Homo sapiens: one gene and its partners. The protein of the gene in region 1 purifies or fractionates together with the protein of each later gene. This does not show direct contact. Each region holds a gene or a part of one and is shown on either strand. Other genes may lie near its edges. The genes, in order: C1orf54, SCARB1, CHSY3, TGFB1, CTSF, MAN2A2 and CEMIP2.

What was found.
Region 2: the proteins of C1orf54 (region 1) and SCARB1 purify together in Homo sapiens (co-immunoprecipitation; 2 studies listed by BioGRID and IntAct, with this or other methods). This does not show direct contact.
Region 3: the proteins of C1orf54 (region 1) and CHSY3 purify together in Homo sapiens (co-immunoprecipitation; 2 studies listed by BioGRID and IntAct, with this or other methods). This does not show direct contact.
Region 4: the proteins of C1orf54 (region 1) and TGFB1 purify together in Homo sapiens (co-immunoprecipitation; 2 studies listed by BioGRID and IntAct, with this or other methods). This does not show direct contact.
Region 5: the proteins of C1orf54 (region 1) and CTSF purify together in Homo sapiens (co-immunoprecipitation; 2 studies listed by BioGRID and IntAct, with this or other methods). This does not show direct contact.
Region 6: the proteins of C1orf54 (region 1) and MAN2A2 purify together in Homo sapiens (co-immunoprecipitation; 2 studies listed by BioGRID and IntAct, with this or other methods). This does not show direct contact.
Region 7: the proteins of C1orf54 (region 1) and CEMIP2 purify together in Homo sapiens (co-immunoprecipitation; 2 studies listed by BioGRID and IntAct, with this or other methods). This does not show direct contact.

What each region holds. Positions count from the first base shown.
Region 1 is NC_000001.11:150,275,790-150,278,602, forward strand, and holds part of C1orf54 (uncharacterized protein C1orf54 isoform b precursor), read left to right. Parts: coding exon 1-10; intron 11-732; coding exon 733-843; intron 844-2,813.
Region 2 is NC_000012.12:124,811,865-124,815,364, reverse strand, and holds part of SCARB1 (scavenger receptor class B member 1), read left to right. Parts: intron 1-250; coding exon 251-392; intron 393-959; coding exon 960-1,163; intron 1,164-3,399; coding exon 3,400-3,495; intron 3,496-3,500. UniProt on the Homo sapiens protein: Receptor for different ligands such as phospholipids, cholesterol ester, lipoproteins, phosphatidylserine and apoptotic cells. Receptor for HDL, mediating selective uptake of cholesteryl ether and HDL-dependent cholesterol efflux.
Region 3 is NC_000005.10:129,903,240-129,907,264, forward strand, and holds the start of CHSY3 (chondroitin sulfate synthase 3), read left to right. Parts: upstream 1-1,225; 5' UTR 1,226-1,590; coding exon 1,591-2,392; intron 2,393-2,602; exon of another isoform or gene 2,603-2,688; intron 2,689-4,025. UniProt on the Homo sapiens protein: Has both beta-1,3-glucuronic acid and beta-1,4-N-acetylgalactosamine transferase activity. Transfers glucuronic acid (GlcUA) from UDP-GlcUA and N-acetylgalactosamine (GalNAc) from UDP-GalNAc to the non-reducing end of the elongating chondroitin polymer.
Region 4 is NC_000019.10:41,340,423-41,343,922, reverse strand, and holds part of TGFB1 (transforming growth factor beta-1 proprotein preproprotein), read left to right. Parts: intron 1-1,675; coding exon 1,676-1,753; intron 1,754-1,889; coding exon of another isoform or gene 1,890-1,892; coding exon 1,893-2,040; intron 2,041-3,500. UniProt on the Homo sapiens protein: Transforming growth factor beta-1 proprotein: Precursor of the Latency-associated peptide (LAP) and Transforming growth factor beta-1 (TGF-beta-1) chains, which constitute the regulatory and active subunit of TGF-beta-1, respectively.
Region 5 is NC_000011.10:66,562,964-66,565,606, reverse strand, and holds the end of CTSF (cathepsin F precursor), read left to right. Parts: intron 1-600; coding exon 601-720; intron 721-800; coding exon 801-865; intron 866-958; coding exon 959-1,049; intron 1,050-1,460; coding exon 1,461-1,519; intron 1,520-1,599; coding exon 1,600-1,674; 3' UTR 1,675-2,143; downstream 2,144-2,643. Other genes in the region: ACTN3 (alpha-actinin-3), read right to left, coding at 2,414-2,572. UniProt on the Homo sapiens protein: Thiol protease which is believed to participate in intracellular degradation and turnover of proteins. Has also been implicated in tumor invasion and metastasis.
Region 6 is NC_000015.10:90,909,802-90,913,301, reverse strand, and holds part of MAN2A2 (alpha-mannosidase 2x), read right to left. Parts: intron 3,213-3,500; coding exon 3,010-3,212; intron 2,802-3,009; coding exon 2,619-2,801; intron 2,456-2,618; coding exon 2,341-2,455; intron 2,132-2,340; coding exon 2,064-2,131; intron 1,918-2,063; coding exon 1,752-1,917; intron 1,260-1,751; coding exon 1,023-1,259; intron 786-1,022; coding exon of another isoform or gene 761-785; coding exon 638-760; intron 426-637; coding exon 311-425; intron 30-310; coding exon 1-29.
Region 7 is NC_000009.12:71,748,014-71,751,513, reverse strand, and holds part of CEMIP2 (cell surface hyaluronidase CEMIP2), read left to right. Parts: intron 1-1,128; 5' UTR 1,129-1,140; coding exon 1,141-1,471; intron 1,472-3,500. UniProt on the Homo sapiens protein: Cell surface hyaluronidase that mediates the initial cleavage of extracellular high-molecular-weight hyaluronan into intermediate-size hyaluronan of approximately 10-5 kDa fragments.

The DNA of each region.
Region 1 (2,813 bases):
GGACAGGCTGGTGAGTGAACTCTACATCTAAAAGGGTTAGGATAAGTAACAATTAAAAAGAAACTGGCCGGGCGCAGTGGCTCATGCCTATAATCCCAGCACTTTGGGAGGCCAAGGCGAGTGGATCATTTGAGGTCAAGAGTTTGAGACCAGCCTGGCCAAAATGGTGAAACCCCGTCTCTACTAAAAATACAAAAACATTAGTTGGACATGGTAGCATATGCCTATAATCCCAGCTACTCAGAAGGCTGAGGTAGGAGAATCACTTGAATCCGGGAGATGGAGGACGCAGTGAGCCAAGATCGTTCCACTGCACTCCAGCCTGGGTGACAGATCCAGACTTCATCTACAAAAAAAAAAGAAAAAAGAAAAGAAAAGAAACTGGGCAATGTTGAAATGTATCTGATTAACAAGAATAAAAATGAGTTTGATGAGGAGAAACTAAGTAGTAGGCCCAAAACAGATTTGTTAACCTATCTGGGGAGGAGAAAAAAGCCAGAACTTTATAAATTGTCCTCAGTAAGTTTGCTAAGACACTGAGGAGGGGCATCAAGGGACTTTTGAATGAGATGGGTACAAATCTATGCAAGCATAGGGTAGGGGGGAATCCCTGAGCTTAAGTCTTTGGGCTGGGTGGAGGTGGTGAAGGGGAGAACTTTAAGTAGAGAATCTATGAAGATGTTGGATGGAAAAACTGATAACTCTGTGTTTCCCAAATCCTACTGAGGGTAGAACAGGTTGGATAAGGACATAACAGAAGCAATAGAGACTACCATTAGTCTTGAAACAGCACGTGCAGACCATCCGAAGCCTGTAACTGTGAAACCAGTAACAACGGAACCTGTGAGTTGATTGGGGATTGGGGGCTGGGGGGAGACAGGACATCCCTAGTGACGTGGAATACATAGAGGGCTGGAATACCAGGCTTTGGTGGATGGGAGAACCAAATAATTAGTACTTCATTGCAGGTATTCATCTCAACTTGGCCATGTTTCACTAAGATTTAATACTAACCCTGTTTACAGAACACTGGGAAGATATGGTACAGTTAAATTTCAGTTCAGTAGTATTCAATAGGTATGTAATCTATGCCTAAGGCTGCTAAGGTAACTGATGCTGATAAAAAAGAAATCTATGTTACTGTCCTCAAGGATTTATAAAATTCAAGTTTACGAAACACTTAGAACAAAATGAAAAGGTATGTTATGATGTTAAATTATATATAAATTTGAAAGCAGAAGATACTGGCAGTGCTTTAGCCAATGTAAGAAGAGAGATTAGTACAGGCTAGAGTTGTCTGAAAAGCTTTCAAGAGGCATTTGTGCTTGAGATACACCCTGAAGAATAGATGAGCTTTTGATTGGTGGGTAGTTATGGAAGGACAGAAGCAATTAGGAGGAAGAATAGTTATTCCAAGAGTGAAAGAGGCCAGGTATGGCGGCTTATGCCTGTAATCCCAGCACTTTGGGGAGGCCAAGGTGGTCGGATCACTTGAGGTCAGCAGTTCAAGGCTAGTTCAATGGCCAACATGGTGGAAACCCCATCTCTACTAAAAATACAAAAGTTAGCCAGGCGTGGTGGTGCGTGCCTGTAATCCCAGCTACTTGGGAAGCTGAGGCATGAGAATCACTTGAACCCGGGAGGCAGAGGTTGCAGTGAGCCGAGATCACGCCACTCTACTCCAGCCTGGGCGACAGAGTGAGACTCTATACTAAAAAAAAAAAAAAAAAAAAAAAAAGAGTGAAAGAGCTGCACAGGAGGGGGGAATAGAACAAGCATAATATGTTTAGCAAATAGGGTATGATTGAAGGAGAGGGTATATGGAAGGGAACAGTGGGAATTAAGAAAAATATAAAATTTACAAGGCTCCTAATACTTGCTTAGTAATTTCACATGTGGCAACATAGGGGCAAATTTCAGAGAGTCTCAGGTGTCAGGCTGAAGTCTGGACTCATAATCAACAAGGAGCCTAGTAAGTTCTTCATTATGGTAAAAACACGATGAAAAGTGATATTTTAGAAAAACCGGCCAGGTGTGGTGGCTCACGACTGTAATCTCAGCACTTTGGGAGGCTGAAGTGAGCTGATCACCTGAAGTCGGGAGTTCGAGACCAGCCTGACCAACATGGAGAAACCCTGTCTATAGTAAAAATACAGAATTAGCTGGGTGTGGTGGCACATGCCTGTAATCCCAGCTACCTGGGAGGCTGAGGCAGGAGAATCGCTTGAACCTGGGAGGCGGAGGTTGCAGTGAGCCGAAATCGCGCTATTGCACTCCAGCCTGGGAAACAAGAGTGAAACTCCATCTCAAAAAAAGAAAAAGAAAAACCACTCTTCAGGTTGTATGCAGGATGTAAATAATTTAGTGGAAAGCAACTCATGAGATTTGCGTTGTTCCAGAAACAATCTGTACTCTGGCATTATGAATGGAGAGGAGAAAAATAAATATTATGAAGAAAATACCTTGCTTGAGTGATAATTTTATATGAAGTATAAATGAGGAGTGAGTTAAAATAACTCATGGGTTTTAAACATGGATGTCTGGGAAAATGGTTGACCAAAGTGGGAACTATGGGAGGCCAGAGTGGTTTAGGACAGAAGTTATTAATTTGGTAATGGCCAAGCTGAGTTTATGGTGACAGCCCTATGAGGGTGTCCTAAAGGTCACTGAACTAGATCAGGGCTAGAGTTCTAAGTGCAAAGTCACAGATATGAAAGTAAATGAGCTCAACAGAGCCAGTACACACAAGCTCAGAAGGCCAGTGACTGTGCCTGTAGTGAGTGGGAGGAAGAGAAATTAATGAATGGAATGGA
Region 2 (3,500 bases), on another chromosome or scaffold:
AGAGACGATGGCCGTGTTGGGTGGGGGAGAGCAGAACGAGGCCGGGTGGGCGGCGACACCATGTCCTGCAGTGGGCAGGCGGCGGGAGGGACAGACTTGGCGAAGGGGCCGAGCTCAGCTTTGGCTGTGGGGCCGGAGGTGTGCACAGACGTCCAGGGCCCCTGGTTCCCAGGCAGGCATTGCAGGCGAGTAGAAGGGAAACGTCCCATGCAGCGGGGCGGGGCGTCTGACCCACTGGCTTCCCCCACAGGGAGTTCAGGCACAAAAGCAACATCACCTTCAACAACAACGACACCGTGTCCTTCCTCGAGTACCGCACCTTCCAGTTCCAGCCCTCCAAGTCCCACGGCTCGGAGAGCGACTACATCGTCATGCCCAACATCCTGGTCTTGGTGAGGCTGCCCTGTGGCCCACGCCGCCTCGCACCCTGACCTCGTCCCCTGTCTCTCCTCCCGCCTGCCCCTTGTGCAGAGAGCAGTCCCTGAGGTGGTCGGAGCGTGGGGACTCACGCCTGGTGGGTGGCTTTCGGCCCTGTGCTGTCTCCACCACCCCCAGTGGGTTCTGAGTTTCCCAGGTGGGTCCACCTGTCTTGGTTTGGAAGTCCTGGCCAAAGTACTTTTTTTTCCCTTTTCAATTTACATTTCTGAGATCTCCAAAAGGGGCTGTCTTGTTGAGGGCTGAGCCACAGGCCCGCCTCTGGGACTGGGGCTGGAGTTCACTTAGCCTGAGTCCAGTGGGGTGCAAGGGGGAGAAGGGGTTCTCGGGAGCACATGTGGCCTTGGCACTGGAGGAGCAGAGGGTGGTTCTGGTGTCCCAGATGCCCCACGTGGCCACTCCAGGGGCCTCCTGCACCCCAGCATTTCCCTTCATGGGCTCTTTGCTGTGAGGCCCAGCTGGGGCCAAGGGAGGATGGGCCAGCCACGTCCAGCCTCTGACACTAGTGTCCCTTCGCCTTGCAGGGTGCGGCGGTGATGATGGAGAATAAGCCCATGACCCTGAAGCTCATCATGACCTTGGCATTCACCACCCTCGGCGAACGTGCCTTCATGAACCGCACTGTGGGTGAGATCATGTGGGGCTACAAGGACCCCCTTGTGAATCTCATCAACAAGTACTTTCCAGGCATGTTCCCCTTCAAGGACAAGTTCGGATTATTTGCTGAGGTACGTGTGGCCTGGTGAGAAGCCAAAGATTCAGGCCTGTGTCCTGTCTTCCCCTCACACAGCCTGGACACTGGTCACCAGCTTGCTTTGTAGCTGGCTGGGGATCTAGTGGCTGTGGGTTGTAAGTGACTGAGAACCTGACTCAAACCGGCTTGAGTGAAATGGGGAATGTTGGGGCTCATAGAACTGAAAATGCTAGGGTTGGATTCAGGTACAGCTTGATCCAGGCTCAAATGATGTGACTGGGCCTTAGCTTAGCAAATTGGAGGCTTTGCTGGAGGAAGGGGGCATGGCTGCTGGGGAGTAATATCACAAGCTGACTCTTAATCTTGACTCTTGGCAACCTGGTAGGGTCACTGACTGGGCTTCGGAGCCAACATCTCGTCCATGGAGGGTCTGACCCTGACCTTGGCTCCCTCACCGCAGGTTTCACTGAGTCCTTGGGACTGCTCCAGCCTCAGCCATCTCTTTGGTCTCTGCTGATCAGGGTAGAGTGCTGGGGGGGATATCGTGGTGCTGCGTGTGATAGATACTCAGTACGTTTTTGTCAAGGGTGACGGGCTCCTGTCGTGTGGGTAAATGAGCAAGTTTGGGCTAAGTGGCATGATGCTGTAAAGGCATCTTGTAAATCCTGAAGTGCTTTGCAAATGAAAGTTATTACAAAGTCCCTAGTTTAGTATAATCTACGTTTGACTGCATATAATGAAAACCTCACAAGAAAAGTCTAGCGGTAGGCTGTTCAGTGTTGGTGTGGTGGCTTCATGGTCTTAAGTGATCTGGAAGCCTTCTACTACTGTGCTCTGCCATCCTTGGCATGTGGTTTTCATCCTCAAGATAACCTCATTGTCCAAGTTGGCTGCTAGAGTGTCAGCAATCACATCACATTCCAGGCAGCACAGCAAGAAGGAAAAAATGGTGGGGCTTTGGGGAGCAGATGGAGGAACTGGGGGTAAAACAGCGTGTTCCAGTTTCCTCCCTCTTAGGGAGGAAGAAAACCAATGTCCACTTCCTTTCTATTGGCCAGAACTGAGTCACATGGCCACACCTAGCTCCAGGGGAAGCTGGAAAGGTAGCCTTTTAGCTGGGTGTGCTGATGCTCTGAGTATGGTTTGGGTTTTGTATGAAAGAGTAAGGAGAGATTGGGCTTTGGGTAGTAACTGGCAGTTTCTGATGCTCTCCGTCCATTATAATGATCATTTAAGTATCCTATTGGGTGAGCATTTATTAATAATAACAATAATAATGAAAATAAAGACTATCATTTTGAGCTCTTACTGTGTCCGGTGCACTGTACCTGGCCGTTTTTGCACATGAGTCCCTTTAATGCTCCCCTTTGTAGTGGCTCTGGTTATTCTTGGCTCCACATGGGCACGTGACAGACACACCCGGGATGCTGGGCTGGGGCCTTGTGCTGGGTCCTGCTCTGGAGGTCTGTGATGGGTGCAGTCACTCAGCCGGGCAACCTTGGAGCTCCTCAGTGTGCTCCACCCTGCAAAGCACTTCTAGATATTTCCTTCAGTCACTCATACCACTTTGTGCTTTGCATGTCTTTGGGATTAGAAACCAGCTTCTGGGAAATGCTCTCGGAGCACCAAAGCCTGGGCCCCACTATCAAGAACCTCGATGGGTTAGGACAGGCCAGGTTTTGCTGCTGTGACAAGCAGCCCCGGAATCTCCATGGCTTAGAACAACCAAGACTTATTCCTTTGCTTGCACTCCACGTCCAGTGTGGGTGACTGGGGCACCCGCGCTTGTGGTGGTCACTTGGGGATCCAGGCTGAGGGAGGCTCTGTCTTGACACATACCTCCTTGGCTGCTATAGCAGCGGCAGAGAGCCCGGTGAAAGGCGTGTGCACAGTCCTTAAAGCATCCCCCCAAGTGACATGCCACTTCTCCTTTTTCATTGCTCAGGGAGCTGACCTGGCCATGCTTTATTTTATGCTGGAGTAGGGTGTGGTGGGGGTGATCTGCCATTTACCTGGGAGGAAAGCCAGACTCTCCTGGAGTTAGGAAGGGAGGGTGGAACACTGCAGCCACAGAACCCGGGACCATTCCTCCTAGAAAGCTCCCAAGCCTCCTCTCGGTCCCCAGACACTGGGCATTTGGCAGTGAACCAGATGCTGGGGGCCCTGTCCTTCTGGTGGAGGGGGAGGAGGGCTCAGCCCAGAATGTTCAGACCAGGCCGGCTCAATGGCAGGCCTAAGCCTTACGATGCTGTTCCCTGCTGTGTCTGTAGCTCAACAACTCCGACTCTGGGCTCTTCACGGTGTTCACGGGGGTCCAGAACATCAGCAGGATCCACCTCGTGGACAAGTGGAACGGGCTGAGCAAGGTGAG
Region 3 (4,025 bases), on another chromosome or scaffold:
AAGGCACAATGATTTTGGCCAATACAGCTTAACTTTTTTTGAGATTCTGTTGCTGGACAATTTTCCTCCCTCATTGGAGAGGTAAAATTTTCCTGTCTTTGCCTTAGAAAATAAAACGGTTCATAGGCAAGAATAAAAATCATATCCTCCATTTTATTTTTTGATTAAGTTCACTTATTTTGTGGGGGTAAGAATTTCTTTCGTTTGGATCTTCAGGGTATTGGCCCTGTGAATGTGTGCCCATTTCTCCACTATTTGCCAGTCCCACTGAGCCAATCTTCTACCAAGACTGAAAATAGACCATAGTTCTCATTTCTTGAACAGATATCATCAGGAGAGCCGAGGGGGAGACCATTAGGCAGCCCCACATTTTCCAACTCAACAGGTGGAGGACATGGGATTTTTACGTTCTTTGGGGATTGAACCCCCACACACCACCAACTCCCTTAGCCTTTCAGGATAAGTATTTCCAATCCCTCAGAGATTTTCTTAGGAGAGACCCTAACGACAATGGTGCTTCTGTGAAGGACTGAGGAGAGCTGGTGGACGATGCAGGTAGGAGGGAAGTTAGGCTGGGAGGAGAGGTGCTGGGATGGGACGTTTGGTTTCCTGACAAGTGACCGACTAGAGAGAGAAGGCGCGGAGTGGCAGCGGTAAGAACAACGTGGAAAGGACGGAAAACGCGAAGAGTGGCGCCCTGGCGGACCTGGGGCGGGGCAGAGTGGTAAGGGTCACGCCAGGACGTACCCGGCTGTGGGCCGGGGGAGGAGAGCACGGTGGGACAGCAACGAACTTGCTGGGGGCTCCCGGACCCGAGCTCCGCCGATGAGGTCAGCGGAGCCTAGGCGCCGGGAGGAGGCCAGTAGAGCCCCCAGACACGAGTGTCGGGAGGCCAGCGGAGGGGCGGGACGGGACGGGAAATGGGACGAAGAGCAAGAGCTGGGGGAGGAGGGAAGAGGGGGCGTCGGCGCTGCAAGCCGGAGGCGGCCCGACAGGGATCGTTTCCTTCCGGAGAGGAGGCCGGCTCTGGACTGAGGCGCGGACGGGGGGCGTCCAAGGGCGGGTGACGGGGAAATACCGCGGCCCGCGCTTCTCTCCGGCTGGCAGCGGTGCCGCCTGCGGCTCCTCCTCCGGGCCAGCTCGGAGCCCGGCGGCGGGGGGAGCGGGAGGCGGGAGTGAGGGCGGGGGCTCGGGAAGGAGGGAGGAGGGAGGGCCCAGGCGCGCCACTGACAGGGTGGCAGCCTAGGAGCGGACGCGTTGCCGCCGCCGCTGCTCCTCCTCCTCCTCCTGCAGCTCCTCCAGCTGCCGCTGCTGCCGCCGCTGCCGCCACCGCCGCCGCCGGGAGAAGTTTCACTCCCGACCCTTGCTCGGAGCCCCGGCCCAGAGCTGAGCGGGAGCCCGGCAGGCAGCTGCAGCCCGCGGCAGTCGAGGCGTCCGCGGCGCTTCGACCTCCAGCCGGTGTCGGCGCCTAGGCGGCCGGCTGCGGCCGCGGCTGGGGGCGCAAAGGCGGAGGAGGGGCGGGTGTGAGCCGGGGAAACCGCGTGCCGCGCCGCGACAGCCCAGCGAGCGTCCGCGCCCGGGACAGCCGCGATGGCTGTGCGCTCTCGCCGCCCGTGGATGAGCGTGGCATTAGGGCTGGTGCTGGGCTTCACCGCCGCGTCCTGGCTCATCGCCCCCAGGGTGGCGGAGCTGAGCGAGAGGAAGAGACGTGGCTCCAGCCTCTGCTCCTACTACGGTCGCTCTGCTGCTGGCCCCCGCGCCGGCGCTCAGCAGCCGCTCCCCCAGCCCCAGTCCCGACCACGGCAGGAGCAGTCGCCGCCCCCCGCGCGCCAGGATCTCCAGGGGCCACCGCTGCCCGAGGCAGCACCCGGGATCACCAGTTTTCGAAGCAGCCCCTGGCAGCAGCCACCTCCGCTGCAGCAGCGGCGGCGAGGACGCGAGCCTGAGGGCGCGACGGGGCTTCCCGGTGCTCCAGCGGCCGAGGGGGAGCCCGAGGAGGAGGACGGGGGCGCGGCTGGGCAGCGGAGAGACGGCCGGCCGGGGAGTAGCCACAACGGCAGCGGGGACGGGGGCGCTGCCGCCCCGAGCGCCCGACCCCGGGACTTCCTGTACGTGGGGGTGATGACCGCGCAGAAGTACCTGGGCAGCCGCGCGCTGGCCGCGCAGCGGACCTGGGCGCGTTTCATCCCGGGCCGCGTGGAGTTCTTTTCCAGCCAGCAGCCCCCCAACGCCGGCCAGCCCCCGCCACCCCTGCCTGTCATCGCGCTACCGGGTGTGGACGACTCCTATCCTCCCCAGAAAAAGTCCTTCATGATGATCAAGTACATGCACGACCACTACCTGGACAAGTATGAGTGGTTCATGCGCGCCGACGACGATGTCTACATCAAAGGTGACCTCCCTGCGCCGGCTTTCCAGCCTGCCAGTCTCCCCGACTCCTTTCTCTGTAACCGGTCCTAGCCCCTGCCCAGCCCCTCCGCTGCTTCTCTGCCAGCACGTGCTTCGGGCTCCCACAGGCCCTGGCCCGCCCTCCCCACCCCTTGCATCCGCCCACAATTCGTAGCCCGTTCCTCGTCTTCTGCAATCTGGACCCTCCTCACACCTGCCTGGCTTTATTCGCCTTCCTCACTTGCTGTTTTCGGTGCCGCCTCGCGCTTGTCCCTTAGTCTTTACCTCGTCGGAGAGGTTAGAAAAGGAACCTTAGAGCTAAACCAAAGGCCATTCCCACTCTGCCCTCCTCTGAAAGCCCCTGCTGATGGTAGTTTCCCCAATCGGTCCAGAGGGGCGTGGTCTTCAGGAAGGGAAGACGGAGGATGCTAGCTACAACTAGTCTGGAGATCCAGTGTTCTGGCTTTGGATCTTGCTCTTTTGTTTAAACTGGATCTAGCGCACTTTTGGAACTGCTCAGATTGAGGAATCGTCTTCGCTGTCCCGGACCCTTTCCTATGTGTTCCCTTCCCTTTGGCTCAACTCTCCACATACTGGGAGTCCTTGGCCATCCCCACCGTGCCAGCGCGCTGCTCCTTCCAGCCGCTACAGTTCAGCACCAAGCCGTCCCCCATCCCCCCGCCACACCTCAATAAAACCCTGAGAGGATGGGCATGTTGTAAGGAATTGGTGGTGGGGGAAAAGAGGAAAGCACCCGCTAATAAGCCAGACCCCTGGGAACAGCAGACTGTACTAGCACACACTAGTATTGGTTCCTTTCCAGTGCATTTTGTTGGCCGCGGTGATAAGCAGAGGCTGGAAGTCCTTCCCAGAACCACAGGCAGCCACAGCAAGAAAAAACTTTTTTTGTCAGTTTAAAAGAGGCGCGGTCTTTTTCCCGGAATGTGGGCGGCTCTGGACAGAGAATTTCTAAACTCAGCGGATCAAAGTTCTTTAGGTCAGAGAAGTGAATCTTTCCAGTCCAGCCAGTTGCTGAGATGGGGAGCAACGCAAGGGAAGCAGCAGGGTTGTACCGAATGAGGTTTCTCTGTGTTTTCCACATTTCCTTGCTTCCCGGTCAAAGGGGGGCAGCCCTTCCTTATTTTATGCCTTTCTACTCGTAGCCTCATTGCTTCCTCCTGATTCGGATAGTACTTTTCACATAATGCAAGAAAAACGAACAAAAAGCCAAACAATAAACCCAAACTGTTGCATTTTGGCACAAGGAATTAGTGTAATCATAATAACTAGAGATTTCTTGGCTTTGGATTGGAAGGAGGGAAGTCACTCTAGAGCAGGTTGGAATAGAAAATACTGATAATTGGATATAAAAATAAAGAATGGTCTCATTACATTTTTAACAGTGGTATTTAGGATTGACTCAAAGAAGAAAGCTTCCTCTACTTTAAGTTCCTTGCCTTGGATATCTCAAAATTACAAAGGTTTCCTGGCAGAAGTTTGCCACATTTTGCAGGGAATTTATAAAATGCATTAACAGCACCTACTTCTTTCATTTGTTTTAATACTTTGAAAGATTGTCCTTCAGAACATTAAAATGACATATTATTTCAATTTCTATTAAGAATGAAATGTGTTTT
Region 4 (3,500 bases), on another chromosome or scaffold:
AACTCATTTGATCTGTCCAGGAGATGATTGTCTCTGTCTGGTTTCTGGCAGGGCCCATGGTGCCCCTATCTCTCTCCCTCACCTCCCTCTCATTTATGCTTTTATTCAATAATTGCCCACAGGTTCCTGCTGTGTGCCTGGCCATGTGCTGGGTGGTGTGGGGGACATAGTGATAACCAAGACAGCCCTCAGTTCTGCCCTCATGGGGCCCACAGTCACTTCTGGACACCTAAGAGATCTTGTCAAGGCCCCACCAGGCAGGAATGACCTAGAATGATCAAGAATGGGATGGGGAGGCACCAGCAGGGAGGACAAGGCTGGGACAGGGAGGCATGCAGGATGGGGGAACGCCCTAAGTGCTGTTGGGAGCCCAGAGAAGGCACCTGGACCCATCTGGGGAGTCTAGGAGGGCTTGCTGGGTGAGGGTGATTGTGTGGAGACTCACAGGATAAATAGTAGTTTGGCCACATGAAAAAAAAGGGATTAGGGGGCCTGGCATGGTGGCTCACGCCTGTAATCCCAGCACTTTGAGAGGCCGAGGTGGGTGGATCACCTGAGATCGGGAGTTCGAGACCAGCCTGACCAACATGGAGAAACCCCGTCTCTACTAAAAATACATAATTAGCTCGGCGTGGTGATGCATGCCTGTAATCCCAGCTACTCGGGAGGCTGAGGCAGGAGAATTGCTTGAACCCAGGAGGTGGAGGTTTCAGTGAGCCAAGATCGTGCCATTGCACTCCAGCCTGGGCAACAACAGTGAAACTCCGTCTCAAAAAAAAAAAAGAAAAGAAAAAGAAAAAATAGGGATTAGGGAGCAGGTGGGCACTGGGAGGAGTGTCCTGGGCTGTTCGACAAAGGCCTAGAAGGAGCTCATCTGTCTTGGTCAATGCTGAGTCCCAAGCACACAGCACAGGCTTCGGCACATTGTAGGAGCCTAGAAAACATCATTCACTCATTCATTCAAGAGATTGATGCTGGCTGGGTGCAGTGGCTCATGCCTGTAATCCCAGCACTTCGGGAGGCCAGGGCAGGAGGATTGCTTGAGCCCAGCCTGGGCAACATAGTGAGACCTCTGTCTCTACAGAGAATTTAAAAAGTAGCCGTGTAGGCCGGATGCAGTGGCTCAAGCCTGTAATCCCAGCACTTTGGGATGCCAAGGCAGGCGGATCACCTGAGGTCAGGAGTTTGAGACCAGCCTGGCCAGCATGGTGAAACCCCATCTCTACTAAAAATACAAAAAATTAGCCGGGTGTGGTGGCGCATGCCTGTTATCCCAGCTACTTGGGAGGCTGAGGCAGGAGAATCGTTTGAACCTGGGAGGTGGAGGTTGCAGTGAGCTGATATCACGCCACTGAACTCCAGCCTGGGCAACAGAGCCAGACTCCATCTCAAAAAAAAAAAAAAAATTAGCCATGCGTGGTAGCACGCGCCTGTGGTCCCAGCTACTCGGGAGGCTGAGATGGGAGGATTGCTTGGGCCTTGGAGATTGAGGCTGCGAGACCTTGTCTCAAAAAAAAAAAAAAAAAAAAAAAGAGAGAGCTGCAGTGAGAGGGCAGAGTGGGGTGGGTGGGGGAGGCAGGAAGGAAGCCCCTGGGGTTTGCTCCTTCCTTCCTCTTCCTCCAGGGGCTGGGTGAGCTGCACTCTCAGACTGGCTTCCCTCTCGCCACTCCTACAGGGGAAATTGAGGGCTTTCGCCTTAGCGCCCACTGCTCCTGTGACAGCAGGGATAACACACTGCAAGTGGACATCAACGGTGAGGCCTGCTTCCCCGGCCATGCCCAGTTGTGACGTGTGTGCGTGTGTGTGTTCCCATCTGCCCCACGCCCCACTTATCTATCCCTCTGAGAGTGTGTGTGTATGTCCCCTATCCCCTGACTCCCACACCAAAGCAGGGTTCACTACCGGCCGCCGAGGTGACCTGGCCACCATTCATGGCATGAACCGGCCTTTCCTGCTTCTCATGGCCACCCCGCTGGAGAGGGCCCAGCATCTGCAAAGCTCCCGGCACCGCCGAGCCCTGGACACCAACTATTGCTTCAGGTGAGCCTTGTAGCCTGGATGGAGGCCTTCCAGGCTGGGGGCATGACTGCCATCTGCTGACCAGGTGCTCCAGGTTGGACACCTGGCTGCTGCTGTGCTTGGGCTGAGCATCTGTCTCCTTTAGCTTGGAGGGCTCAGGGGATGAGGTCTGGGTGTAAGAACCAGGAGTCTTGTGCCAGGTGCGGTGGCTCACGCCTGTAATCCCAACACTTTGGGAGGCTGAGGCAGGTGGATCACCTGAAGTGAGGAGTTTGAGACCTGTCTGGCCAACATGGTGAAACCCGTCTCTACTAAAAATCCAAAAATTAGCCAGGCGTGGTGGGCGCCTATAATCCCAGCCACAAAAAACAAAAAAAGAACTGGGAGTCTTGTAATGTTGGGATCAGGTTCCTTTTTTTTTTTTTTTTTTTTTTTTTGAGACAGAGTCTCGCTCTGTCACCTGGGCTGGAGTGCAGTGGCGCTATCTTGATTCACTGCAAGCTCCACCTCCCGGGTTCACACGATTCTCCTGTCTCAGCCTCCCGAGTAGCTAGGACTACAGGCACGTGCCACCACGCCCAGCTAATTTTTTTGTATTTTTAGTAGAGATGGGGTTTCACTGTGTTAGCCAGGATGGTCTCCATCTCCTGACCTCGTGATACACCCACCTCAGCCTCCCAAAGTGCTGGGATTACAGGCGTGAGCCAACGCGCCCGGCCTAATTTTTTGTATCTTTAGTAGAGACTGGGTTTCACCATGTTAGCCAGGATGGTCTTGATCTCCTGACCTCGTGATCCGCCTGCCTCAGCCTCCCGAAGTGCTGGGATTACAGGTGTGAGCCACCACGCCCAGCCTTGCTTTCTTGCTGGAGTGTTGGAATCACAGAATGTTAGAAAGTTGAACCCTGTGATTGTTGGAATTCAAAGTTGGAAGGTCACCATCTTGAATCCCTAAATTGTTGGCAGGTTGAGGTTCTAGAATGCTGGGATTCTAGAATGCTAGAATTTGGTGTTAATTACTGAAATGGAAAATGTCGGACTCAAGGAAAGCTGAAACATTGGAATCCTAGAATTTGGGGATTCAAAATGGGAAGATGGCCCATGTGGAATTCCTGCACCACTGGCCAATTGTGGATACCAGTGTTGGCAGATTGGAGTCCTTGAATATTGGGCTCACAGTGGTAGAATTCTGTTTTGAAATATTCACATCCACAAATGTTGGAGTTGGAGAAAGCAGAATATTGGTATCTCAGCATGTTGGAACTCAGTGTTGGAATGTTAGAATATTAGAATGCTGGGATTTTATTAATAGAAAGTGGCAGCAGGCTGGGCGCGGTGGCTCACGCCTATAATTCCAGCACTTTGGGAGGCTGAGGTGGGCGGATCCCTGAGGTCTGGAGTTCAAGACCAGCCTGGCCAACATGGTGAAACCCCATCTCTATTAAAAATACAAAAATTAGCCAGGTGTGGTGGCTGGCACCT
Region 5 (2,643 bases), on another chromosome or scaffold:
ATAATGGGGGGGAGACATGAGCATGAGAGTTACACAGAACTGGGTCCAGGTCTTAATGCTGACCCAGCCAGGCGTGGTGGCTCATGCCTGTAATTCCAACACTTTGGGAGGCCAACTTGGGAAGATCACTTAAGGCCAGAAGTTCAGGACCAGGTTGGGCAACATAGCAAGACCCCATCTCTACAAAAAATTAAAGACATTAGCCAGGCATGGTGGCTTGCATCTGTAGTCTCAGCTACTTGGGGGGCTGAGGCAGGAGGATCGCTTGAGCCCAGGAGGTTGAGGCTGTAGTGAGGCATGTTTGTGCCACTGTACTCCAGCCTGGGTGAAAGACTGCTGGGATGAGCTCTTGGTGAGGAGTCAGAAGTTGGAGTTGAGTTCTGTCTCTGCCACTTTTCTTGCTGGCTACTGGTCCCTCCTCCCCATCTCTCCCAGCCTCAGATGTGTCATTTCTAGAATGAAGACATTCTTCAGAGGGGATGGCCTGTGGCCTGGGGTGGACGAGGAATGTGAAACCTCGCGTAGAGGGCTTAGTTCATTTCTGGCTGTGAATGGCAAATGGGAGCCTGCCCTTCTCTACTCACCCCCACCGTTCCCCAGGAGGGCTGGAGACAGAGGATGACTACAGCTACCAGGGTCACATGCAGTCCTGCAACTTCTCAGCAGAGAAGGCCAAGGTCTACATCAATGACTCCGTGGAGCTGAGCCAGAACGAGCAGAGTGAGTGAGGGGCAGGGTGAGGTGAGGTCAGGTGGGGCCGGGGCCTGGGTGCCTACTGATGCCACCCCTTCCCATCTCAGAGCTGGCAGCCTGGCTGGCCAAGAGAGGCCCAATCTCCGTGGCCATCAATGCCTTTGGCATGCAGGTGAGGCCCTAGCCCCACTGCCCCTGCCCCATCTCTTGTTGACCTCCCCGACCTCTTCTTGGAGTCGATCCCCTACTCCTTCTCCACCTCCAGTTTTACCGCCACGGGATCTCCCGCCCTCTCCGGCCCCTCTGCAGCCCTTGGCTCATTGACCATGCGGTGTTGCTTGTGGGCTACGGCAACCGTGAGTTCCGCTGCCTGTCCTGCATCCAGCCAGGCCACAGGCAGGGGTGGGATCACAGCATCTCAGGTCCTCTAGAGGGGAAATAGGGGGAATGCCTAGGAACCCTGTCCTTACCCACTGCCTGGGCCATGACCAGCTGGGCATCATCTGTCCTCTCTATGGCAGGGAAGCTGAGCTGTGGGAGGGTAAATATTGATGGCCTAATAACCTGCAATAGGCGGGTGGGTGCGTGCTTCCTCCCTGCCCCAGGGCTTCTCCCTGAGGCTGGTAGGTGGGCCCCTCGCTTTCTGCTCTTTTCCTAGTCCCTGTCACACAGTAGGCCCAGTGCAAGTATTTGAAGGGTGCAAAGTGATTAAGGCTCTGCCTGGAGAATTAAGGACCCTGATCCTTGCGCTCTGCACTGCACCCCAGGCTCTGACGTTCCCTTTTGGGCCATCAAGAACAGCTGGGGCACTGACTGGGGTGAGAAGGTGAGTCTTGCTGGCTTGGCCCCTGGCCCTCCAGCCGCCATCCTACCCTGGTGCCCTCACCAGCTCCCCCTCTCCCCCAGGGTTACTACTACTTGCATCGTGGGTCCGGGGCCTGTGGCGTGAACACCATGGCCAGCTCGGCGGTGGTGGACTGAAGAGGGGCCCCCAGCTCGGGACCTGGTGCTGATCAGAGTGGCTGCTGCCCCAGCCTGACATGTGTCCAGGCCCCTCCCCGGGAGGTACAGCTGGCAGAGGGAAAGGCACTGGGTACCTCAGGGTGAGCAGAGGGCACTGGGCTGGGGCACAGCCCCTGCTTCCCTGCACCCCATTCCCACCCTGAAGTTCTGCACCTGCACCTTTGTTGAATTGTGGTAGCTTAGGAGGATGTCGGGGTGAAGGGTGGTATCTTGGCAGTTGAAGCTGGGGCAAGAACTCTGGGCTTGGGTAATGAGCAGGAAGAAAATTTTCTGATCTTAAGCCCAGCTCTGTTCTGCCCCCGCTTTCCTCTGTTTGATACTATAAATTTTCTGGTTCCCTTGGATTTAGGGATAGTGTCCCTCTCCATGTCCAGGAAACTTGTAACCACCCTTTTCTAACAGCAATAAAGAGGTGTCCTTGTCCCGAGTGTGGTATAAATGCTCAGTCCCCGGGGGTGAGGAGAGATGGCAGGGACTCCTGGCGGGTCAAGGTGGGATAGCTGGTCCTGCCCAGGAGCCTGAGGGGCCAGCTTCTGCTTCAGGAACTAAAAGGAGATGGGGAGAGACCCAGAGAGGGATCTTTATTCAGAAGCACTTGGCTGGCTTTTCTCTTAGGCCCTTGCTCCGAGGGACGGATGGGATCAGCCACAGGGTGCATCCTCTCTCCATCTTGCATAGAGAACCTCAGTGGTTGGGGTCAAAGGTCGCTCTCCCCATAGAGGGCACTGGAGAAGGCCACGTAGTCCAGGGCTCCAGCCGGGGCCCCGGATCCCTTGTAGGGCACCATACGGCGGATGCAGTACTCGGCCTGCTTGGCAGGGAGCTCGCGCCGCAGCTCCTCGGGGGTGATGTAGTTCTGGGGAGAAGAGGCGTTGAGGACCCACAGGTCCCGTGCCCTGCCCTAGCCCACCAGCCCCTCCACCGCCT
Region 6 (3,500 bases), on another chromosome or scaffold:
TGATATGTCCAGAGACAGCCCCTCCACCCCTGGGTACAGGAACAAAGTGGGGGCATGGACAGGTGTGAGGCTGAAGCACAGCTAAGAGGCTGGGCTGGGGGATCAGAGCCGAGCTGGGGAGAGGCTCTGTCCAACCTCCCAAGAAATCCCCAGGGCATTTCTGGATGACTTTTTCTCCAAGAGAATGGAGCATCCCTGTCTCAAATGATACGGAACAGAGGTATGAACAGAGAAGCAGCAGAAGGAAGAATACGCCACAGTTGTGGAGCCCACACCTCCTTCCAGACCCTTCCTCATATGCAGGGCTCACCTGGCAGATTGTAAAGCCGGACCGCCTGGTGAATGTGCTCATAGTACGCAACCACCTCTGAGAAGAAAGGGCCTTCAGTGACACGCAGCACGGGGGGCTCCTTGGGGACGTAGGGCTAGAGAAAGAGCAGATTGCTGTTGAAACTACAGCACAGAGGGCAAAGCAGGAAGGTGCCAGCCCAGGGCTGGGCAAGAGAGCACCTATTCCCAGACACCCCTGGGCTGAACAGGAAAGACAAGGCCCCTGGCAGGCAGCAATAAACCTGTGGGAAGGCCTGTGCCCCCTCCTGCCCTCCCTGCCAGGTTGTTCAAGGCATCTTTAGGATACCTTGGCCTCGCCATCGGGCAGGAAGAGGTAGGCTCCACTCTTGTCTTTGGACGTACGGGTGCCATAGACAAGGACCTGCATGTCCACCTGCTGCTCGTGCTCCTCATCCACCCTTCGGATGCTCTGCCAAAAAACACAGCCCTGACCCCTGGCCCCACACCAGCATGTCAGGCCTGCCTCCTGGGAGGACACGGAATAGCTTCCCCAAGGAGCCGTGCCCTGCTTCCCCATGCTGTCAGGCTGGAGCTGAGATGGCCCAGGCCCCGGTCCACTGTGGGTCAGGTGGCAGAATGCTCACAGGGCCGGGAGGCCGCTCTGCACAGTGCCACCACCACACACGCCCTACTCTGGCCCCTGGCCCTTCCCCACCACCCTGGCCTTTTACCTTGAGGAGCCCAGTAAGGCCTGAGAACCAGACCTGCATGTAGCGGTTGCTGAGGGCGAAGTCGCTGGTGCCAGAGTCAATGACACGGAGAGGAAACGCTTCGTGCCTGCTGACGGACAGCTGCCGGCCGTGCAGGTAGATGCGCACAGAGGAGGGCAGCGTGCGGTGCCCATCCAGGCCCAGCTGTAGCTGCAGCACGCCCAGGCCCAGGGCTGGCAGGCGGACAGGCACAGACACCTGTGGGCACAGGAGGGGTGAGGAAGTGGGGGCACGGCTTTCGCCACAGGGGTGCTGAGGCATCCGCTTACTAACAGAGGGCTTGAGCAAGCCCCTGCACCCGCTGGGCCTCTGCCCCTCCTCCAAAGTGGAGGTGATCTGATTTGCCCTTTCTTCCTCATCAGACTTTATGATTCTCAAGTGATATTTGAAAAAGTATGAAGCGGTAACAACACATTAAGCTTTCGATAAACATTGAATGACTGAATGATGGGGCATTATAACTGCTATTTTTACCATTACTATTACCATACCAACCTTCCCCTTCTTTTCAAGGACACGCTCAAATCCCAAGAGTGCCTGTCTTCTGGACAACCCCCTCCCCAGGACACTTGTCCTCAGCCTGGAGAGTAGCAGGGCCACAAGCAGGAGGGTGGGAGGCTGGCGTCGCCGGGCGGGGAGGGGCCCACGACGGGCAGAGGGCCAGGCCCACCTGACAAGCCCACACCTCACCTGGTAGACGTCAGGGACCGCCTCGGTGGCAGAGCTCCAGTGTGCGCTGATCTGCACGGCCAGGGGCTGACCCTCCTCCGAAAGGACACGCACGCGGGGAGAGTTGACCAGCAGGGACACCATGCTGAATCGCTCCTGTTCCAGTGGGTTGAATAGGACCACAAACCTGTGCGTAGAAGGTGGGCTGACCCAGGAGGCTGCTGCTTCCGACCAGGGCAAGCGCCCTGCACTGGTTCAGCACATGCTGGGGCAGAGGGGCCTGAGAGCCAGGGAATGGCTCTGCCTCTCTGCACATGGCGTAGTCCAGGTTACCTGGGCGAGGAATCCAGCTGGATCACCGTGCGCTCTGGGAGGGCGTCGTGACTTAAGCGAGTGTCATCCTGGAATTCAGTGAGCCGGAAGGGAAGAACCATCATGGGCTCAGCCTCCTCCCACCCCACCTGTCCCAGGTGTGGACCAGCGGCTGCACTGGGCACAGAACTCATCCGGATGGGGAAGGAAAAAGAGAAGCGGCACCCCCATCCAGCAGCTCTTGGGATGGGACCTGCACACACCAGAGGGTCCCCATGCAGACCCAGGAGGGGCTCACCACTTGGAGGAAGGGCGCCTCAGGGTCAAAGTGGTAGGTCTCCTTGTCCCCCAGCACCAGATAGTGGGCTGCATGAATGATGACCTGCTTCAGGTTGACAAGGGAGCGCAGAAGCCTGTGGGTGGCGCAGGAGAGGGAAGGAGAGAAGATGACCATAGGGAAGCTGTCTGCCTTGTCAGCAGGACAAGCCCTAGGCCGGCCTACCCCCTGACCACCCAATGTCCTTTCTTTGGGACAGTGAGCAGGGGAGCTTACAAGGGAAAAGAGAAGGCTCCCACCTGACCCCATAGTCCACCACCACAGCCTCCTTGGCCGTGCCAGTGATGGCATCGTGATGCTGGAAGAGCCCCAATGTGCGCCGAGCTTCCGTCAGGAGGGTGAAATCAGACAGTGGGTACCGGCCAGCCAGACCAGAGCGGCGAGCGTGAGCTGCAGCCAGGCTGTACAGAACCTCTGCCCCCCTGCCCAGAGAGAGAAGTTAGCTGCCAGCCTGCACCACTAGCCAGGGCCCACCCACACTCTGCCAGTGCAGCCTCCTTCCTTCCCACCCCTCCTCTACCTGCCCTGGCCTCTGGGCCTATCTATTCCCTTCTGAGCCAATCCAGCCCCTCCTTAAACCCCAAAGGCTGACTCTCCCCCTCCAGCCTGGAAGCGGGGACAGGGTCTCACCGCAGGTGGGCTTCCAGGACTCGGTCTAAGCTCTTGTAGAAGGGCCGGGAAGTGTAATAGCCTGTCCAGTAATGATCCTCCCGGTCCGCATAGGAGAAGAAATCCCCGCTCAGCACAGGAAACCCTGGAGGCCGGGCCCCTGGCTCCACCCCTGTCCTCTTGTACAGGGCATCAAAATAGTCAGAAAGAGTGCCAAACTGGGCCTGTGGGAACCCCAAAAACCCACTCCCATCAGTTCTAGAGCCTCCTGCAAATTGTGGCCACAGTGCTGCAGTTGGGGGTGAGGCAGGGGCTCTGGCCTCAGAAGCAGGAACTGTACATCCTGCCATTCTAGACTTAACAGAAGTAGGGGAGCCTGGGAATTAATTCTGACATAAAAGGGGCACCTTCGGCTGGGCGCGGTGGCTCACGCCTGTAATCCCAGCACTTTGGGAGGCCGAGGCGAGTGGATCACGAAGTCAGGAGATCGAGACCACCCTGGCTAACACAGT
Region 7 (3,500 bases), on another chromosome or scaffold:
TTCATGAGAATCACTTGGGGAGCATTTAAAAGCTGCAAATACTTAGATCCCAGGGACAGCAATCCTGATTGAATTGTTTAGCCGTGGTGCCCTGAGCATTCACCTTAGCGGGTGATTACACTATGCAGCCAGGGTTGAGAAGGAGTGACATTAGAACACAAGTAATGAAGGTGATTGTCAACATGGTTTATTAGATCAGGGATGTAAGCTGACTTGATATTTTCAAGAAGTCATTATGATGGTTACCAGGGGCTGGGAAAAATGGAGAGTTACTTAATGGATATAGAGTTTTTGTTTGGGATGATGAAAAAGTTCTGAAAATGGATAGTGGTGATGGTCACACAACTTTGTGAATGTACGTAATGCCATTGAATTGTACGCTTAACATAGTTAAAATGTAAGTTTATGGTATATTTAACACAATTTAAAAAGTACTTTAAAAAAACCATTTATGATTCATACATTCCAGCTGGATACTGGGGCTCACGCCTGTAATCCCAGCACTTTGCAAGGCTGAGGTGGAAGAATCACTTGAGCTCCGGAGTTTGAGACCAGCCTAGGCAATATAGCAGGATCCCATCTCTACAAAAAATTTAAAAATTAGCCAATCATCGTGGGATGTACCTGTAGTCCTGGCTACCCGGGAGGCTCAGGCAGGAGGATTGCTTGAGCCCAGGAGTGCGAGACTGTAGTGATCTATGATCATGCCACTGCACTTCAGTCTGGGCAACAGAGTGAGACCCTGTCTCTAAAAAATAGAAATTAAAGGCGAGTTGCGGTGGCTCACACCTGTAATCCCAGCACTTTGGGAGGCTGAGGTGGGTGGATCACCTGAGGTTGGGAGTTCGAGACCAGCCTAACCTACATGGAGAAACATTGTCTCTACTTAAAAAAAAAAAAAAAAATTAGCTGGGCGTGGTGGTGCATGCCTCTAATCCCAGCTACTCGGGAGGCTGAGGCAGGAGAATCACTTGAACCTGGGAGGCAGAGGTGGCGGTGAGCCGAGATCATGCCATTGCACTCCAGTGTGGGCAACAAGAGTGAAACTCCATCTCATAAATAAATAAATAAAAGAAATTAAAAAAGAATTTACACATACTGAAGCTTAATTTTTTTTTCTTTTCACAGTAACAGTGTATCATGTATGCCACTGATTCCAGGGGACACTCCCCTGCTTTCCTCCAACCTCAGAATGGAAATAGTCGTCACCCATCTGGCTATGTTCCAGGGAAGGTTGTCCCATTGCGTCCCCCTCCTCCTCCAAAGAGTCAAGCTTCAGCCAAATTTACCTCCATCAGACGAGAAGACCGGGCAACCTTCGCATTCTCACCTGAAGAACAGCAAGCCCAGAGAGAAAGTCAAAAGCAAAAGAGACACAAAAATACTTTCATTTGTTTTGCTATTACTAGTTTCTCATTTTTTATTGCACTTGCAATCATTTTAGGAATATCCTCAAAATATGCTCCAGATGGTAAGTGTGTGTATATGCACATAGAACATATTCTAGAAGACAAAAGAGGAGGAAATAGTAGAATACTTAAAAAAAAATTTATCTTAAGTTGGCCCTAGCTAACTAATATGTAGTTAGGTAATACGAGGTGTCACTTCTTATGAATGAGAGCAATTGTTCAATAATCTGTTGGAAATGATTAAATGGTTGCTCTTCCTGTCCATTGTGCCACTTTGTTGCAGCACTCAGGGAGGTCTTGGAGTACCTCTTTTGGAAATGCTTTGAGGGCCTTCACTAAATTCTTATGGTAGGTATGATTTTTGGACTGCTGCAATTTTTTTTTTCTTTTTTTCTTTTTTTGAGGCAGTCTTGCTCTGTTGTCCTGGCTGGAGTGCAGTGGTGTGTTCTTGGCTCACTGTAACCTCCGCCCCCTGGGTTCAAATGATTCTCATGCCTCAGCCTCCTGAGTAGCTGGGACTACAGGCAAGTGCCACCACATCTGGCTAATTTTTGTATTTTTAGTAGAGACAGGGTTTCACCATGTTGGCCAGGCTGGTCTCGAACTCCTGACCTCAGGTGATCTGCCTGTCTTGGCCTCCCAAAGTGCTGGGATTACAGGTGTGAGCCACCATGCCCGGCCGCAAGTTTTTTTTTTTTTAGTCATACGTATAGTGAACTATATTAGATTTTTTTGTTTAAGTAAGTGACTAAAAATAATAATATTTGTGTTTGTGGCTTGAAATGGGCTTGGGAAGCAGTTCCAAAGGAAAAGTTTCAAATATTTTTGAGTAACAATATATATCCTGGAAGGGAAGCATCCTTTAGGATATATAAGTTCTGACACCTTTGTCTAAAAATCAGTCATTACTTCATAGTTAAATATTATGCAGGGAGATTTTAATTTCTTAAATGGTATTTTCTTTTCAAGTTAATGATATATCAATATTTTGAAAAGTTTTGAAGAAGATGGTTGCAAGTCAGCCTTATTGGAATACCAACAAAGAATTGCCTCATAAAAGAATACCATCCATCTGTCTAAAATCAAAGGACTCGGGGCTGTGAAGAGAGAAGACTCTAACAGCCTGGACTGGGTACCATATTTGTCTACAACAGATTTTTGTCAAGTTAAATGCTTCCTTAAGTGGCTGTAACAGTTCAGAGGCATTTTACTACTTATAAGACTTACAAATACTTTATTATTTAGTTTTCTTGGGTGCTTTCAAGGGATTTTTAAAATTTTAAGGTTCTGGGAGAGGTAGTGCTAGTACTTCTAAGAAAATAAACCTCAAATGAGAGAGACATGCACATTAATATCCTTATGGACCAAACAAGTAGACCACATTATGAACTTATAACATTGATTTCCATTGCATGCGGTATGACTTCCTCTCTCCTTTTCCCAGCAGAATAACCAAGTTCTCTGTGCTGATTCATAATAACCAAGTTCACTGTGCTGATTCATACTTCCCAACTCTTCTGCAGTAAAGGGATGCTAGACCAGTGGGAAATCAGAGCTGAAGTCTATGGCTTTGATTGGTGTTTTCATATTCCATCTAAAACAGGGCATTGCTGATATGGTTCCTTGAACCAACATTCTTTAGTTTCACATTTTGGCAGTGTAAAGTGCAGATCATCAGTGGAAAGATCTGGTATGCTGAAATATTTCAGGGTCAGCTTGACTGTGGTTATTGCTGTTACATAACTTTGATAATATACTCACTGCTCTTCAAGTGGGTAGCTGGGAAGGTGGGGTTGGCTGAGCTACTTTTCAGTGCTTTGTACAGACTACACATTTTCTCATTAAGTGCATTTTACTGGAAGGAAACAGACTGGAATTTTTGGTGATGGTTCTAATGAACCATGCTCTCCTGGGAAATAATTAAAAACAATTAAGAGAAATTATATAATCATTGAAGTAGGCTCCAGATCTCAAAAGACTGGATTTCCTTCTTTATAGCTGGGTACAGTGCTTGTTATAAAACTATGGAGAATTTCAGCTAGATGTTGTATGGGAAGAGGGAGGTAGAAAAGTTAAGGAATCCTCATTATT